2 separate regions of the Homo sapiens genome follow, and region 2 is linked to region 1. The links come from fine-mapping of genetic effects on gene expression. Tissue or cell type: whole blood. Region 1 holds a variant in brackets; the other region holds the start of a gene. All regions are shown on one strand. Distances are between the middles of the regions.

Region 1 (8,098 bases):
CATCAAGCGCTGTCTCTGAGTAGTTCTTTTGCACAGGTAGCCCAGCCCTAAATCCTAGGCCTCTTCCGGCAGCAGCAGAGCTCCCCAGCAGGCCTGTCATCCAGTCAAGGCGGCCATGGGTCTTGGAGCCCCACTCGATCTCTGTCTACGGCCATTGCTTGTCCTGACCCTGGCTGCCTCCCTGGTGCCTCTGTGTGAGCCTGGAGTCCTGTACTCACTCCCTAAGTGCTGTTCAAAGAGGGAATGAATGGGAACCTGGGAGGTAGGTCAGGATTGTTGACCTCCCCACTGCTCAGCGGGGAAACCGAGGCTCCATGAGTTCTGGTGTTTCTCCTGCAGTTCACCTGGGAGTGGAAGCCAGACAGGGTATTTCCTGGGCTAAGCAGCCATCAGTTGTAAGATGCAGCTTCCTTTTCAGAGACAAAAGTGTGAAAAATGCGCATCTTGGAGTTGATAAAACTCAGGAAAAGTCCTGTCCCACCCTGCAGTTTGCCCGCTGTCTCAAGGCTGTTTTGTGCAGGGTTGTCTTTTTCTGTTAAATTTCTGTCTCGTTAGCCAAAGGAACAAAATCCCCTGATGTCTTCCCAGTGCTTTGTACCTTCTCAAGCATGTCCCCTTCCATGGTCCTGCTTTTGTATTTAAAATTTTTTAGTCTTTTTTTTTTTTTTTTTTAAATGCGAGATGGAATTTTGCTCTTGTTGCCCAGGCTGGAGTGCAATGGTGCTATCTTGGCTCACTGCAACCTCCGCCTCCCAGGTTCAAGCAATTCTCCTGCCTCAGCCTCCTGAGTAGCTGGGATTACGGGCACATGCCACCACACCCGGCTGATTTTTGTATTTTTAGTAGAGAGGGGGTTTCACCATGTCAGGCTGGTTTTGAACTCCTGACCTCAGTTGATCACTGGCGTCCGCCTCCCAAAGTGCTGGGATTACAGGCGTGAGCCACTGCACCCGGCCTGAATTGAGAGACTTCTTTAACTCAGTTTCTTTTTATTTTCAAGATGGAGCCTTGCTCTGTCGCCCAGGCTGGAGTGCAATAGTGCGATCTTGGCTCACTGCAACCTCCACCTCCCAGGTTCAAGCAATTCTCCTGCCTTGGCTTCTCAAGTAGCTGGTGTTACAGGCGTGCACCACCACCCCCAGCTAATTTTTGTACTTTATTTTTTTTTTTTTGAGATGAAGTCTCACTCTGTTGCCTAAGCTGGAGTGCAGTGGTGCGATTTTGGCCCACTGCAACCTCTACCTCCCGGGTTCAAGCAGTTCTCCTGCCTCAGCCTCCCGAGTAGCTGGGACTACAGGCCTGCACCACCATGCCCAGCTAATTTTTGTATTTTTAGTAGAGACAGGTTTCACTATGTTGGCCAGGCTGGTCTCGAACTCCTCACCTTGTGATCTGCCCGCCATGGCCTCCCAAAGTGCTGGAATTACAGGTGTGAGCCACCACTCCCGGCCATACTTTTTTAGTAGAGATGGGGTTTCGCCGCCATGTTGGCCAGGCTAGTCTCGAACTCCTGACCTCAGGTGATCCTCTCGCCTTGGCCTCCCAGAGTGCTGGGATTACAGGCATGAGCCACCACGCCTGAGTGTAACTTGGTTTCTAACAAAAGTCTGCTTAAAAATATGTAGGAGTGGGCCGGGCGTGGTGGCTCACGCCTGTAATCCCAGCACTTTGGGAGGCTGAGGCGGGCAGATCACGAGGTCAGGAGATCGAGACCATCCTGGCTAATGCGGTGAAACCCTGTCTCTACTAAAAATACAAAAAATTAGCTGGACGTAGTGGCTGGCGCCTGTAGTCCCAGCTACTCGGGAGACTGAGGCAGGAGAATGGTGTGAACCCGGGAGGCGGAGCTTGCAGTGAGCCGAGATTGTGCCACTGCACTCCAGCCTGGGTGACAGAGTGAGACTCTGTCTCAAAAAAAAAAAAAAAAAAAAAAAATTTAGGAGTGGGCCGGGTGCGGTGGCTCATGCCTGTAATCCTAGCACTTTGGGAGCCCAAGGTGGGTGGATCACGAGGTCAGGAGTTCAAGACCAGCCTGGGCAACATGGTGAAGCCCCATCTCTACTAAAAATACAAAAATTAGCTGGGCATGGTGGCAGGCACCTGTAATCCTAGCTACTCAGGAGGCTGAGGCAGAGAATTGTTTGAGCCCAGGAGGCGGAGGTTGCAATGAGCCGAGATAGTGCCACTGCACTCCAGCCTGGGTGACAGAACGAGAGGCCATCTCAAAAAAAAAAAAGTGTGTGTGTGTGTACTCTCATATATTAGACATTACATAATACATAATAGAAATATAAAACTATACATTATTATATATAAAAATATATACTCCTATTTATAAAATTCCCTTTTATTTTCATTCCCCTCCCCGTCAGCGACCTCCTGTGCTGGAGTGAATTGCTTGCTTTGTGCGATGGATTTTTGCTTTACAGAAAGGATACTGCTTCTGTTTCTCCTCCTGCTGCTTTTCCTCCCAGTGCTGTGTTTAGAGGGTCGCCTTGTTGGTTACCTGTCCCTCCCTGCTGCTCCTCCCTGCTGTGCGCTCCATGGGCTGCAGGTAGTACAGTTCACTTCAAATCCTCATGAGGGTCAGACCCCCAGGTGTTCACCATCTCCCTGTCACAGAGGCACAGAGGTAAAATGACTTCCCAAGGTCACACAGGGAGCTGCTGCCTGAGCTGGGATTTTCGTCCTCCTGGTTAATTCAGACTCACACTCAGGCTTCCTACTGCTTGGACTGTGGCCCATGTTCTCACCTCCAGCACAAATAGCCGGTGCTGTGCCTTCAGGGACTGGGGAGAGCGATGAGGCAGGAACACACCCATTCCCCTGCAAAGCCAGATCAGTGTCTGAGGATTGCCAGCTGAGCCTGGGGAGGTCAGGCGGGGAGGCATCAGGGTAGGCTTCCTGGAGGAGGGAGCTTCTAGGGCAGGCTTTGGGGCTTGGGGGTAGGGTAAGAAAAACAGGGAATCTAGCATGATCCAAGGTCATTGCCCTGAGCAGCTGGGTGGAAGGAAGTGTTCTTTCTCTCTCTCTCTTTTTTTTTTTTTTTTGAGACTGAGACCGAGTTTAGTTCTTGTTGCCCAGGCTGGAGTGCAGTGGCGCGATCTTGGCTCACCGCAACCTCTGCCTTCGGCGTTCAAGAGATTCTCGTGCCTCAGCTCCCCGAGTAGCTGGGATTACAGGCACGCACCACCGCGCCCGGCTAATTTTGTGTTTTTAGTAGCGTCGGGGTTTCTCCATGTTGGCCAGGCTGGTCTTGAACTCCCGACCTCAGATGATCCGCCCACCTCTGCCTCCCAAAGTGCTGGGATTACAGGCGTGAGCCAACATGCCCGGCAGATTGTGACTCCCTAGTGCCCTCAGGTAAAACCTCTTCAGCTCCGTACAAAGTCTTTCTGATCTGGCCTGGCTTATCTCCTACCCTTTTCATCTTGCCTTTCACTCACCAAGCTGGTTCCCGCCTCCCCACCTCGGCCTGCACTGTACTCTGCCCAGAGTCATCTTCCCCTGCTACAAGCATACCCCAGAGAGCAGGCAGGTTAGGTTCTAGACAGTGCAGTAAAGTGAGTATCACAATAGAGCGAGCCACACACGTTTTTTGATTCTCCAGTGGATACAAAAGTTACGTTTATACGATACTGCAATCTGTTAAGTGTGCAATAACATCATGTCTAAAAAAACCAGTGTACATACCTTAATTAAAAATTGCTTTATTGCTAAAATATGCTGATACTGACATGAAGTGAGCTTGTGACTGGGAAAATGATGCAGATAGACTCACTGGACAAAGGGTTGCCAGAAACCTTCAGTTCGTAAAAAAATGCTGTGTCTTTGAAGTGTAGTAACAAGTTATGCCTGTACCTCCCACTGCCACGCCCTGACTTTTTTTTTTTTCTTTGGAAGATAGGGTCTCATTCTGTCGCCCAGGCTGGAATGCAGTGGTGTGATCATACTCACTCCTGTCTTGACCTCCCAGGCTCAAGCGTTCCTCCAACCTCAGCTACCCGAGTAGTTGGGACCGCAGGCATGTGCCACCATACCTGGCTGATTTTTTAAGTTTTTGCAGAGATGAGGTTTCACTATGTTGCCCAGGCTGGCCTTGAACTCCCGGGCTCAAGTGATCCTCCTGACTCAGTCTCCCACAGTGCTGGGATTACAGACATGAGCCACTGCACCTGGCTTTTTTTTTTTTTTTTTTTTTTTTTGAGACAGAGTCTCACTCTGTTGCCCAGGGTGAAGTGCAGTGACGTGATCTCAGCTCACTGCAACCTCCACCTCCTGGGTTCAAGTAGTTCTCCTGCCTCAGCCTCCTGAGTAGCTGGGATTACAGGCGTGAGCCACCACGCCCAGCTAATTTTTGTATTTTTAGTAGAGATAGGGTTTCACCATGTTGGCCAGGCTGGTCTCGAACTCCTGACCTCCAGTGATTTGCCCTCCTCAGCCTCCCAAAGTGTTGAGATTACAGGTGTGAGCCACCAACCTGGCCTTTTTTTTTTTTTTTTAAGAGACAGGGTCTCACTGGTGCCCAGGCTGGATTGCGGTGGC[G/A]TGATTGTGGTTCACTGTGGCCTCCAACTCTTTTGGGGCCACATCTCGCAGGTCTCTGCTTAAATGCTCCCTCCTCGGGGAAGCCCTCTTTGACTTTCTCGTCCAATTTCCTTCACTTCACTGAGCTTATTTCCATGTTAGGTGACATCCTCAGGGTCTGACAAGGACTGAATAAACCCCTAACTGATACTGAATGATTGAGGGGCCAGGTGACCTTTATACAGATCGTGAGGAGATTGGGTTGGGTTTGGATTGGGTTTTTGAGTTTCTGAGCTGAGTTGGAGGCTTAGGAGAGAAAAGGAAAGAAGGTGAGGGAAGGTTCTGGAAGAGCCTGGAGGAGGTGGTACTGGGTTGGGCTCAGAAGTGAAGTTTGCTCACAGTTTGCGAAGTGGAGAGGGTGTGAAGGCAGAGGTTGTGTGTACAATTGGGAAAGCGTTCAGGAGGCCAGCATGGATGGGCTGAGAGACACAGGAGGAGAGGGAGGCCGTGGGGCTGTGTGGGGGCCGGGGGCACGGGGAGCTGGTAGTTAGGGAGAGCTCTGGCAGCTGCCTTGCTCGACATGGAGAGGCGCCTTTTGTTTCTTGGCCCCTGGGTCTTATGAGCAAATGGTGGTTCTTAATTTGGGGTAAGAGGGAGCTCCAGTCCTTTTAGGAATCTGCTTAGAGGCCACAGACTTTTCCCCAGAGAAACACACACTTGACTCTGTATCCCAAAGTTTGGCAAAGGGGTTCAGGAGGGGTGGGGAGCCAGTTAAGAGCTGTTCACGGATCGTGATGGCAATAACCATGATAATCACAGCCAGCACTTACCTTGGCTCGCCCCAGCTTGGTTCTGGTCTAGGCCACTTACAAGCATCAGCTCCTTCACTCACAGAAGGACTGGAGGAGGTAGGTGCAGGGAGCACCCCGATTTTACACGAGTAAACTGAGGCACAGAGCGATTAAGTGACTTGCCCAGAGCCCGACAGCTGCTAAGTGGCAGAGCCCCCACTCTCTTCCCTGGATGGTCTGCTTCCTGGATGGAGCCTGTTTCTGTTTTGTTTTGTTTTGGAGACAGAGTGAGACTCTGTCTCCCAGGCTGGAGTGCAGTAGTGTGATCTTGGCTTGCTGCAGCCCCGACCTCTCGATCTCCCAGGCTCAAGCAATCTTCCTTCCTCAGCCGCCCAAGTAGCTGGGACTACAGTCATGTGCCACCATGGCCCGCTAATTTTTTGGTTTTTTTTTTTTTTTTTTTAGAGACAGGGTCTTGCCATGTTGCCCAGGGTGGTCTTGAACTCCTGGGCTCAGGTGATCTGCCTGCCTTGGCCTCCCAAAGCAGTGAGATTACAGGCATGAGCTACCACGTCCAGCTGCATCCTGGGTTTTTTTTTTTTTTTTTTTTCTGAGACAGAGTCTCGCTCGGTCACCTAGGCTGGAGTGCAATGGCGTGATCTCAGCTCACTGCAACCTCCACCTCCCGGGTTCAAGCAACTCTCCTGCCTCAGCCTCTGGAGCAGCTGGGATTACAGGCGCCCACCACCACACCCAGCTAATTTTTGTATTTTTAGTAGAGATGGGGTTTCACCATGTCAGTCAGGCTCGTCTTGAACTCCTGTCCTCAAGTGATCCGCCCGTCTTGGCCTCCCAGAGTGCTGGGATTACAGGCGTGAGCCACCGCGCTTGGTCCACCCTGGGTTTTTATTCATCAAGCCTCGCTGCCCCCTTGGTACAGGGGCCAAGACCACAGCTGGGAAGCTCCTTTCCTCTTGCCCCAAGAGCCAGCCTGGGTTGCTGCTGAGCCATTGCAGGCTGAGGCACAGCCTCTCTTTCTCCTTTTACGCTTCCTGATGTCTTCTTTAACATAATCATGGCCACCTCAGCTTCTTTCAGAGAGCAATATGTTCCTGAGCTAGAGACATGGGTGACCAGCTGGAGTCAGGATTTGGGGGGTGTGGTGTAGGTCTAGAGCCAACTGTGGCACTGGAACAAGGCCCCTACCTTGTTCAGCCTCAGTTTCCCTAATCAGCTAGAGAGGCCTACTTCCTCCTTGGAGGTTAAATAGATGACATTCATAGGTCAACGGAAATGCTGCATTTATGGCAATAACTGACCTTGTAGGTGTTTCAAAATTCAGGCCGTTTCAGACCAGAGTGCACACAGGATGATGTGGGACCCCCCAGCAAGGCAGGCAGCTCCCCGTCAGCACATATGCTAGCACTTCTGCGAAGATTTCTGCAGCAAATATATCTGCTGCTGTTGATACTAAGAGGGAGATCTAAGGACAGCCATTGCAGTTCCACTTTGCCCCACAATGAGCCAGGAAAAAAGAAAAGGATGGCTTTAGAGATTTTTGGAGGTTGGAATTGCAGATTAGGGGGCCACAGACCTAAAATGCCTACCGAGTAGGATGAGTGGGTTTTTTGTTTGTTTGTTTTGTTTTGTTTTGTTTTTTGAGACAGAGTCTTGCTCTGTTGCCCAGGCTGGAGTGCAGTGGCACGATCTCGGCTCACTGCAACCTCCACCTCCCGGGTTCAAGCGATTCTTCTGCCTCAGCCTCCCAAGTAGCTGGGATTACAGGCGCATGCCACTATGTCTGGCTAATTTCTGTATTTTTAGTAGAGACGGGATTTCTTCATGTTGGCCAGGCTGGTCTCGAACCCCTGACCTCGTGATCCACTCATGTCAGCTCCTCGAAGTGGTGGGATTACAGGTGTGAGCCACCGCGCCGGGCCAGGGTGTGGGGTTTAATTGGGATGATATGTTGTGGAGTGACTGGCACATGACAACATGACAAGGACTTTGTCATTGCTGGTTGCTATTACTATTGACTGTTGTTGCTATTATTATTACTAACCCCTCTTCGGTCTGTATGGGCTGGTGCAGACACATTGGGCTGTGATGCAGATCCACAGTTTTCTAGACTTGCACACCAGTTCCTGGGGGATCCTGTTACCACGTGAGTTCTGAGTCAGCTGGTGCAGACACTTTGCATTTCTTAACTCCCAGGTGAGGCTGCTGTGGTCAGGGGCCTGCCCTCTGAGTAGTAAGGTGTCCAGTGGTTTTCCAGGTGTTTCTGAGTTACTTTCAAGGATTCTGCAAATGGAGGGGAGGCATTGGATGCCAGGGTCAAAATAAGATTCCTTAGCTCTTAGCTTTGGGGTTTGCCAATTTGCAGCCAGGTCTGTGTTAATCATTACATATGGAAAAAAGTCATATAACACGACGAAAGTCTTTGCACCATCTCCTCTTCTTTCCTTTTCCAAAGGTGACCTCTGTGGGGAGTTTGGGGCTCATGGTCTCTCTCTGTTGTCCAGGCTGGAGTGCAGTGGCATGATCATAGTTCATTGCAGTCTCAACATCCTGGGTTCAGGTGATCCTTCCACCTCAGCCTCCTGAGTAGCTGGGGCTACAGGCACATGCCACCACACCCAGCTAATTTTTGTATTTTTTTTTGTAGACACAGGGTTTTGCCATGTTGCCCAGGCTGGTCTCAAACTCCTGGGCTCAAGTGATCCTCCTGCCTCGGCCTCCCAAAGTACTGGGATTACAGGTGTGAGCCACCGCACCTGGCCTTA
Region 2 (8,089 bases), 150 kb after region 1:
CATACTGGAGTAGGATGGTCCCTAAACCATCATGACTGGTGTCCTTAAAAAATTCGGAAATTTGAGCCTGGAGAGGTAGCTCATGCCTGTAATCTCTGCTCTTGGGGAGGCCGAGACAGGAACATCACTTAAGCCCAGGAGTTTGAGAGCAGCCTGGACAACATAGCAAGACCTTGTCTCTACAAAATATTTTAAAAAATTGGCTGGGGCCGGGCCCGGTTCTCAAAGCCTGTAATTCCAGCACTTTGGGAGGCCGAGGTGAGCAGATCACTTGAGGTCTGGAGTTGGAGACCAGTGTGGCCAACATGATGAAAGCCTGTCTCTACTAAAAATACAAAAATTAGCTGGGCATGGTGGCGCATGCCTGTAGCTCCAGCTTGGGAGGCTGAGGCAGGAGAATTGCTTGAACCTGGGAGGCAGAGGTTGCAGTGAGCCGAGATTGTGCCACTGCACTCCAGCCTGGGCAACAGAGTGAGACTCCGTCTCAAAAAACAAACAAACAAACAAACAAAAAAATATATATGGTATGTATATATTTATTTTGTATATATATTTTTGTGTATATACATATCTATATATATAATTTGTATTTATAGAGATGGGGTCTCACTATGTTGCCCAGGCAGAGGTTTGAGTTTTTGTTGAGGGCTCTGGGAGTCACAGAAGATAGCTCTATTTGTGGGTCATTCACTTTTTGCCCAGCCCTGTGTTGCTTTACATGCACTTGCTCATTAAATCCTCCCAAGATCAGGGGGATCAGACTGAGGTGGGTGGAGTCGACTTGAACTTTGCTTAGGGTTCTAAGAGGTAAAGACTAGGGGATCTGGGGACAGGGAAATCCCAGATAGAGTTAACCTTTTTTTTTTTTTTTTTTTTTTTTTGATACAGTCTCGCTCTGTCGCCCAGGCTGGAGCGCAGTGGTGCAATCTCAGCTCACTGCCTTCTGTCTCCTGGGTTCAAGTGATTCTCCTGCCTCAGCCTCCCAAGTAGCTGGGATTACAGGCGTGCACCACCACATTGGGATAATTTTTGTATTTTTAGTAGAGACAGGGTTTCACCATGATGGCCAGGCTGGTCTTGAACTCCTGAGCTCAGGTGATCTGCCTGCCTCGGCCTCCCAAAGTGCTGGGATTACAGGTGTGAGCCACCTCATCAGGCTGAGTTTATTGAGTTATCCCCGTGTGCCAGTCAGAGCTCTAGTTCTTCCTACCTGTATAAACTCGCTTACTGCTCACATCAACCATCTAATGGAAGTGCTGTTTTCATGTTGTTTCCTGCCCTTTGTCTCTACCTGCCAGATCACTCCCATGAAGGAAGGGACTTTGTTTATTTATTCATTGCTGTATCCCTGGAAACTGGGACTGCAGGTGGTTATGAAGTACCTATTTGTTAAATGAGTGAACATTTCCTGTAGGCAATTACACCCAACTTCCAAATGGAGAAACAGGCTCAGAGATAAGCCCCTGCACCCTCACTCCTCAACTCAACTGCCTGTTTCTAGCACTTTCCATGACGATCCCCTCTGCACGGAGAGGGTTCATGGGGAGTGACTATTGTTCTGTAATGAATGACCAGGCTGTGCCAGGTCCGGCAGTAGGCCTTTTCCTTTTCCTTTTTTTTTTTTTTTTGAGATGGAGTTGAGTTTTGCTCTTGTCGCCCAAACAGGAGTGCAATGGCGTGATCTTGGCTCACTGCAACCTGTACCTCCTGGGTTCAAGTGATTCTCCTGCCTCAGCCTCCCGAAGAGCTGGGACTACAGGCATGCGCCACCACGCCTGGCTAATTTTCATATTTTTAGTAGCGACGGGGTTTTGCCATGTTGTCCAGGCTGGTCTCGAACTCCTGACTTCAGGTGATCCACCCACCCTGGCCTCCCAAAGTGCTGGGATTTCAGGTGTGACCCACTGTGCCTGGCCAGGCCTTTTCCTTTCTTTCTTTTTTCGAGACAGTGTCTTACTCTGTTGTCCAGGCTGGGGTGGCAGTGGCACAATCACGGCTCACTGCAGCCCCAAACTCCTGGGCTAAAGTGATCCTTCCACCTCAGCCTCCCCAGTAACTGGGAGTACAGGTACATGCCACCACACGGACTAATTTTAAAAGTTTTTGTAGAGATGGGGTCTTGCTATGTTGCCCCAGCTGGTCTCAGACTCTTGGGCTCAAGCAGTCCTCCTGCCTCGGCCTCCCAAAGCATTGGGATTACAGGTATGTGCCACCGTGCCCAGCCGCAGCAGGCCTTTTGTTTTTTTAGAGAGGGTCTTGCTTGGTGGCCTAAGCTGGAGTGCAGTGGTGCAATCACGGCTCACAGCAGCTTCCAAACTCCTGCGCTCAAGCGAGCCTCCTGCCTAAGCCTCTCAAGTAGCCTGGGACTGTAGGCACACACCACCACGCCCGGCTGATTTATTATCTATTTATTTATTTGAGGTGGAGCCTCGCTCTGTCACCCAGGCTGGAGTGCATTGGCCTGATCTTGGCTCACTGCAACCTCCGCCTCCCAGGTTCAAGTAATTCTCCTGCCTCAGCCTTCCGAGTAGCTGGGACTACAGGCACGCGCCACCACGCCCATCTAATTTTTGTATTTTTAATAGAGACGGGGTTCCTCCATGTTGGCCAGGCTGGTCTTGAACTCCTGACCTCAAGTGATCCGCCCGCCTCGGCCTTCCAAAGTGTTGGGATTACAGGCGTGAGCCAACGCACCCAGCCACTAATGTATTATTATTATTATTCTGTAGAGACGCAGTCTGGCTATGTTGCCCAGGCTGGTCTTGAATTCCTGCCTCTGCCTCCCAAAGCGCTGGGGTTACAGGCGTGAGCCACCGCGCCCTGCGGCTGCAGGTCTTTATAAGGCAACTGTGGGCCCTGGACCGCTCCCTGAAAACCTCCCCCTCAACTCCCTGTCTCCTCCCTCACCTGGTCTACCCCGAATCCTTCCCCTCTCGCCCCCTCGCCCTCTCCAGGGGAGGTGAGGGACTCAAGAATCGCGCCCTGCTTCTGTCCCCACCGCGCCGTCCCCAAGCCCACGCAGTGAAAAGACCACCCTTGAGGCTGATTCCGGGTCCAGCTGGGAGCGGCCAGCCGTAAATCACCGCCCCCGTGGGCCGTACCATTCTGGCCGGGGGGACCTGGGAGGGGACGCGCGGAGGGCTTCCCCCGGGGACTGCCTGTATCGAGACTCTCTCCAGCCCAACAGGAGGATGGGAAGGAGACTTGTGTGGGGGCCTCGGGCTGGCGGGTCGCGGGTTCCTTATCCTCCGCCTTGGCGCCTCTCCGCCCACCGCCCACCGCCCCTCCCTGGCATTGGTTGGCGCCAGGGGAAGCCGAGGCTCCATCCTTTCTGCGCAGGTTCCCGCCGCACTCGCGCAGACCTAGCGCGTCCAGGTGGGAGGTTAGTGTGGCCCGGGCGTCCGCTCCTCAGCGGATGTGGCAGCCCCGAGCCATGGCTCTCGCCGTCCGAGTCGTTTATTGGTAAGCCCAGCGGCCAGCGGCCCCCGTCCCCGACCCCCGCCGGGACCCGATTCTCGGAGCCGGGGTCAGGGAGCCCCGGGGAGAGGACCCATGGGAGCCCTTGTATGGGAAAAGGGAGCCCCTGTATGTGGGTGGGGTGGGCGTACGGAGGGGCGAAAAACAGAGGGCGGTCGTCCCTAGGCCCCGTCTTCGACTTGTGACACGCTGGGCATCTCGGGTTATAAAAGGTGGGGCTGAGACGAGTGTGTGTCAATTTCGAACCCCCGACTCCGGGGCTCCGCTGGGGAAGGGGCTGGGGGTCAGCTTTGTAAAGGGACCTAAGGCTCCTCCACCCTAAGGCTTCCCCTCCCCCAATATCCCGAACAGTCGCGGGGTGGGGACAGTGAGAGCCCAGAAGGTTCGAGAATGTCTCAGCCTGTGTTTCAGAAGCACTTGAATTGTTGGCCTCTGCCCAGTGGGTTCCCTTGGCCACGAACCCCACTCCTTTTCTGGCCTCAGTTTTCCGTCTGTGGCAAGAGGGAGGCTCTGTGTCAATACCGAACACGCTTAATTTCTGCAAGTCTCAGGAAGGGTATAATAGGATAGGATATAAATTACGTTCTCTCCACTCCCCAGCACCTAATACTGTGTGGCATGCTGTAGGTATTTAATAAATACGTGTTCAATGAATTTATCCTCCCAGGAATCCCTTAAGAGAGGGGAATTTTAGGCCAGGTGCCGTTGATCACGCCTGTAATCCAAACACTGGGAGGCTGAGGCGGGTGGATCGCTTGAGCCCAAGAGTTCGAGACCAGCCTGGGCAACCCAGGGAGACCCCCCCCTCGTCTCTACAGAAACTTAAAAAGTTAGCCGGGCATGGTGGCGCACTCCTGTAGTCGCAGCTGCTTGGGAGGCTGAGGCAGGAGGATCACTGGAGCCCGGAAGGCGGAAGTTGCAGTGAGCTGAAATCGTGCCACTGCACTCCATCCTGGACAGCAGAGCGAGACTCTGTCTCAAAAAAAAAAAGTAAATTAAAGAGAGGAATTTTAGTTCTATGTTACAGGTGAGAAAACTGAGGCTGGGACTGGGGTGGGGGCAGGTCAGTAGCTTCAAGTCTGGACTGCAGGTGACAGGGGTAACTGGAACCTGGGTTTGTCGGCAGCTTTCCAACGTCTCTGCCTGCTCGACAAAGCAGAGGCAAGAGTGACATTTTGAGACGCCTACCAGGCCTGTACACCAGATTCCAGTCCCGAAATAGCCTGCTGTGGGGGTTGGGTGAGCCTGTATTTCACCCTGGGGACTGGGAAGGTGTTCAGAATCTAGGAGCTGCGGGGCCGGGTGCGGTGGCTCCTGCCTGTAATCTCAGCACTTTGGGAGGCTGGGGCGGGCCGATCCCCTGAGGTTAGGAGTTCGAGACCAGCCTGGCCAACATGGTGAAAATACAAAAATTAGCTGGGCGTGGTGTAAGAATCCAGGAGCCGCAGGGTTTTCCTTGGAGTGCTGCGAGGGCTGTGGGTGAGGGTGGTGGGCACAGGGAGTGGGTGGGGACCTTACGTGTGCTGTTCTTCTCCTAATCCAGTTCTCCTGGTTTTCCCCCGTCCCCGTCTCTCGTATTTGTGGTCTCCTTGTCTCCTCTCTCCCCTTTTTCCCCTCCCCCTTCTCTGTCTCTTGCTTGGTGTTGGTTTTCTGTGTGTCTCTGTGTGTCCCCGCGCCACCCCCTGTGCTGTGTCCCAAAACTCTGCCTGGCTGGTGCCTGTCTTCTCTCTTGAGGGCATCTGTCACCTCTTCTGCTTGGTCATCTGTGTTCCTCTTTATTTCTTCCTGGCCCCATCTTGCTCTCTCCCCACACCGCCTGTGTCTACCCTCCTCTCCCCGATCCCCCACTTCTCCCTCTCTCCCCTGGGCCCCAATGTCTTGGACTCTCCTACCAGTGGCGCTTGAGGCTACAAGTCCAAGGTAAGCAGAGTGGATGCCCGGGGGGCATTCCTGGGAGCTGGGGAGGGGTAGAGTGCATATTGGGAGGGGGCTGACTGGTATGACCCCTGCTGTGACCTCTCACCGCGTTTTCAGTATCTTCAGCTCAAGAAGAAGTTAGAAGATGAGTTCCCCGGCCGCCTGGACATCGTGAGTCTTGGGATGGGGAGAAAGACTTGAGCACAGCCACTGTGTCGGTCCGTTAGGCCTGGATGGCACTGCAGGGGGGTTAGGTCAGCCCTACGCCCTTCACCCATGTTCTCATCCCCCTGGGAAGGGGAGGGTCTCCCCAAGAGGACATCTTAGCCCCTCCAACATCTCCCCTACCCCCTTTCCTCAGTGCGGCGAGGGAACTCCCCAGGCCACCGGGTTCTTTGAAGTGATGGTAGCCGGGAAGTTGATTCACTCTAAGAAGGTATGTCTGTCTGTCCGTCCTGCCTGGTTTTGGGGCTAGCATGGGGTTGGGGCTGAGGTTGGTGTCTCGGTCCCAGCTCACCCCTTCCCTCTTCCTCCCCTCCCTAGAAAGGCGATGGCTACGTGGACACAGAAAGCAAGTTTCTGAAGTTGGTGGCCGCCATCAAAGCCGCCTTGGCTCAGGGCTAATGCGCCCTGAAGGCAGAGGTGAGGGGGCCCACTAGACAGGGACACCACCCTTTGGATCTTCTCCCTGCCCCATGCTCTGACTCCTTGGCCCAGGGTGGAGAGCCTGGGAGATGGGGGGGACATCACGTGTGTCCCCAGAGCGAGCGGGATAAAGTTAGACCCGGTTGGTGGAGGACAACAACTGAGATGGGGTCAGAGGTGTGCAGGGTGACAGCTGAGATGGTGATGGGTCAGAGATATGCAGGATGACAGCTGAGATGGGGTCAAAGGTATGCAGGATGACAGCTGAGATGGTGATGGGTCAGAGGTGTGCAGGATGACAGCTGAGATGGTGATGGGTCAAAGGTATGCAGGATGACGGCTGAGATGGTGATGGGTCAGAGGTGTGCAGGATGACGGCTGAGATGCTGATGAGTCAGAGGTGTGCAGGATGATGGCTGAGATGGTGATGGGTCAGAGGTGTGCAGGATGACGGCTGAGATGGTGATGGGTCAGAGATGTGCAGGATGACAGCTGAGATGGGGTCAGAGGTGTGCAGGATGACAGCTGAGATAGGGTCAGAGGTATGCAGGATGACAGCTGAGATGGGGTATGCAAGATGACAGCTGAGTTGGTGGTGGGGTCAGAGGGCTGCCCTAAAACAGCTCTCCTGGTTTGGGAATGAAAAGTGCTAGCAACCCAACGGTTCAGAATCCGGAACTCTAGGTCTTTGTCCCATTGCCAAGAAACAGTTCCCAACCCAGCAGGTCATGTGACAGCGTCCGGCCAAGTTCCCAGCATGTTTTGAGACAGAATTTCCTTGCTCCACAATTTCGAGTAGGTCACTAATTATCACCGGGCTCTGAACCTGAGAATTAGTTCTAGGAATATTCCAGACCTGATCCAGCTCCAGAAACTTACCCACTTTGGAACTGAACATGAGTCCAAGAATGCTCTAGAAACAAATGCTAACTCTAGAATGGATTGTCTGCTCCAAAAAAACCCTAGAGCTGACTCCCAGTTCTCCCCATAGAGCCGAGAATGAAATACACCACCAGCTCCCAACACACTGTAAACCTGAGCCCCCCTTCCCAACCCAGCAATTGAAAAATGTGAACCAGCTCCTAAGCACTAGAATTGACCACTAGTTCCTGGAGTTGGCTACTGGTTCCTTATCACTGTTTTTCTTTCTTTCTTTCTTTTTTTTTTGAGATGGAGTCTTGCTCTGTCTCCCGGGCTGGAGTGCAGTGGCGCGATCTCGGCTCACTGCAGCCTCTGCCTCCCGAGTTCAAGCAATTCTCCTGTGTCAGCCTCCCAAGTAGCTGGGATTACAGGCACATGCCACTATGCCCGGCTAATTTTTGTATTTTTAGTAGGTCTGATCCTGTTGGCCAGGCTGGTCTTCAGGTGATCCACCTGCCTTGGCCTTCCAAAGTGTTGGGATTACAGGCGTGAGCCACCGTGCTTGGCCTCCTTAAGCACTCTGAACCAAGTATTGTTTCCAGCCTAATACATTGTGGAACAAGTGGCAATTTCTATATGAACCTCAGGAACAAAGAACTACTTTCCAGCACCTTCTGAGTCTGATTTTCCAGTTTGTAAGCCAGTATGGTCCAGATAAGCGTGAAACCCAACCCATTCTAGAACAGTTACTAGCCCTTTTTCTGGTCTCTGGCACTGCAGGGCCTGGAGCATAGTTTATTTTTTGAGGTGGAGTCTCGCTCTGTCGCCCAGGCTGGAGTACAGTAGTGTGATCTCGGCTCACTGCAACATCTGCCTCCTGGGTTCAAGGGATTCTTGTGTCTCAGCCTCGTGAGTAGCTGGAATTACAGATGTCTGCCACCATGCTGGGCAAATTTTTTTTTTTTTTTCTAAGACGGAGTCTCTGTCGCCCAGGCTGGAGTGCAGTGGCGTGATCTCGGCTCACTGCAAGCTCCGCCTCCCGGGTTCACGCCATTCTCCTGCCTCAGCCTCCCAAGTAGCTGGGACTACAAGCGCCTGCCACCACGCCTGGCTAATTTTTTGTATTTTTTAGTAGAGACGGGGTTTCACCGTGTTAGCCAGGCTGGTTTTGAACTCTTGACCTCAGGTG

Evidence for each region. PIP is the estimated chance that this variant, and not a neighbour inherited with it, causes the effect.
Region 2: it holds the start of SELENOW, and the variant in region 1 is fine-mapped to the expression of SELENOW in whole blood (INTERVAL, PIP above 0.99).

The regions. Positions count from the first base shown.
Region 1 is chr19:47,620,813-47,628,910 of GRCh38, forward strand. All of the region lies in intron 1 of BICRA (BRD4 interacting chromatin remodeling complex associated protein), which reads left to right. Among named protein-coding and RNA genes, the nearest start is that of BICRA, 16 kb to the left of the region's middle. RefSeq lists enhancers at 1-320, 6,080-6,654. The variant G/A (reference allele first, on the strand shown) is at 4,546.
Region 2 is chr19:47,775,353-47,783,441 of GRCh38, forward strand. It overlaps SELENOW (selenoprotein W), which reads left to right and starts at 3,351. Exons shown (of 6, transcript NM_003009.4): 1 at 3,351-3,462; 2 at 5,373-5,397; 3 at 5,512-5,565; 4 at 5,756-5,830; 5 at 5,938-6,036. The coding sequence starts at 3,434. The coding sequence ends at 6,018. RefSeq lists silencers at 3,239-3,498, 3,509-3,648 and an enhancer at 5,716-6,301.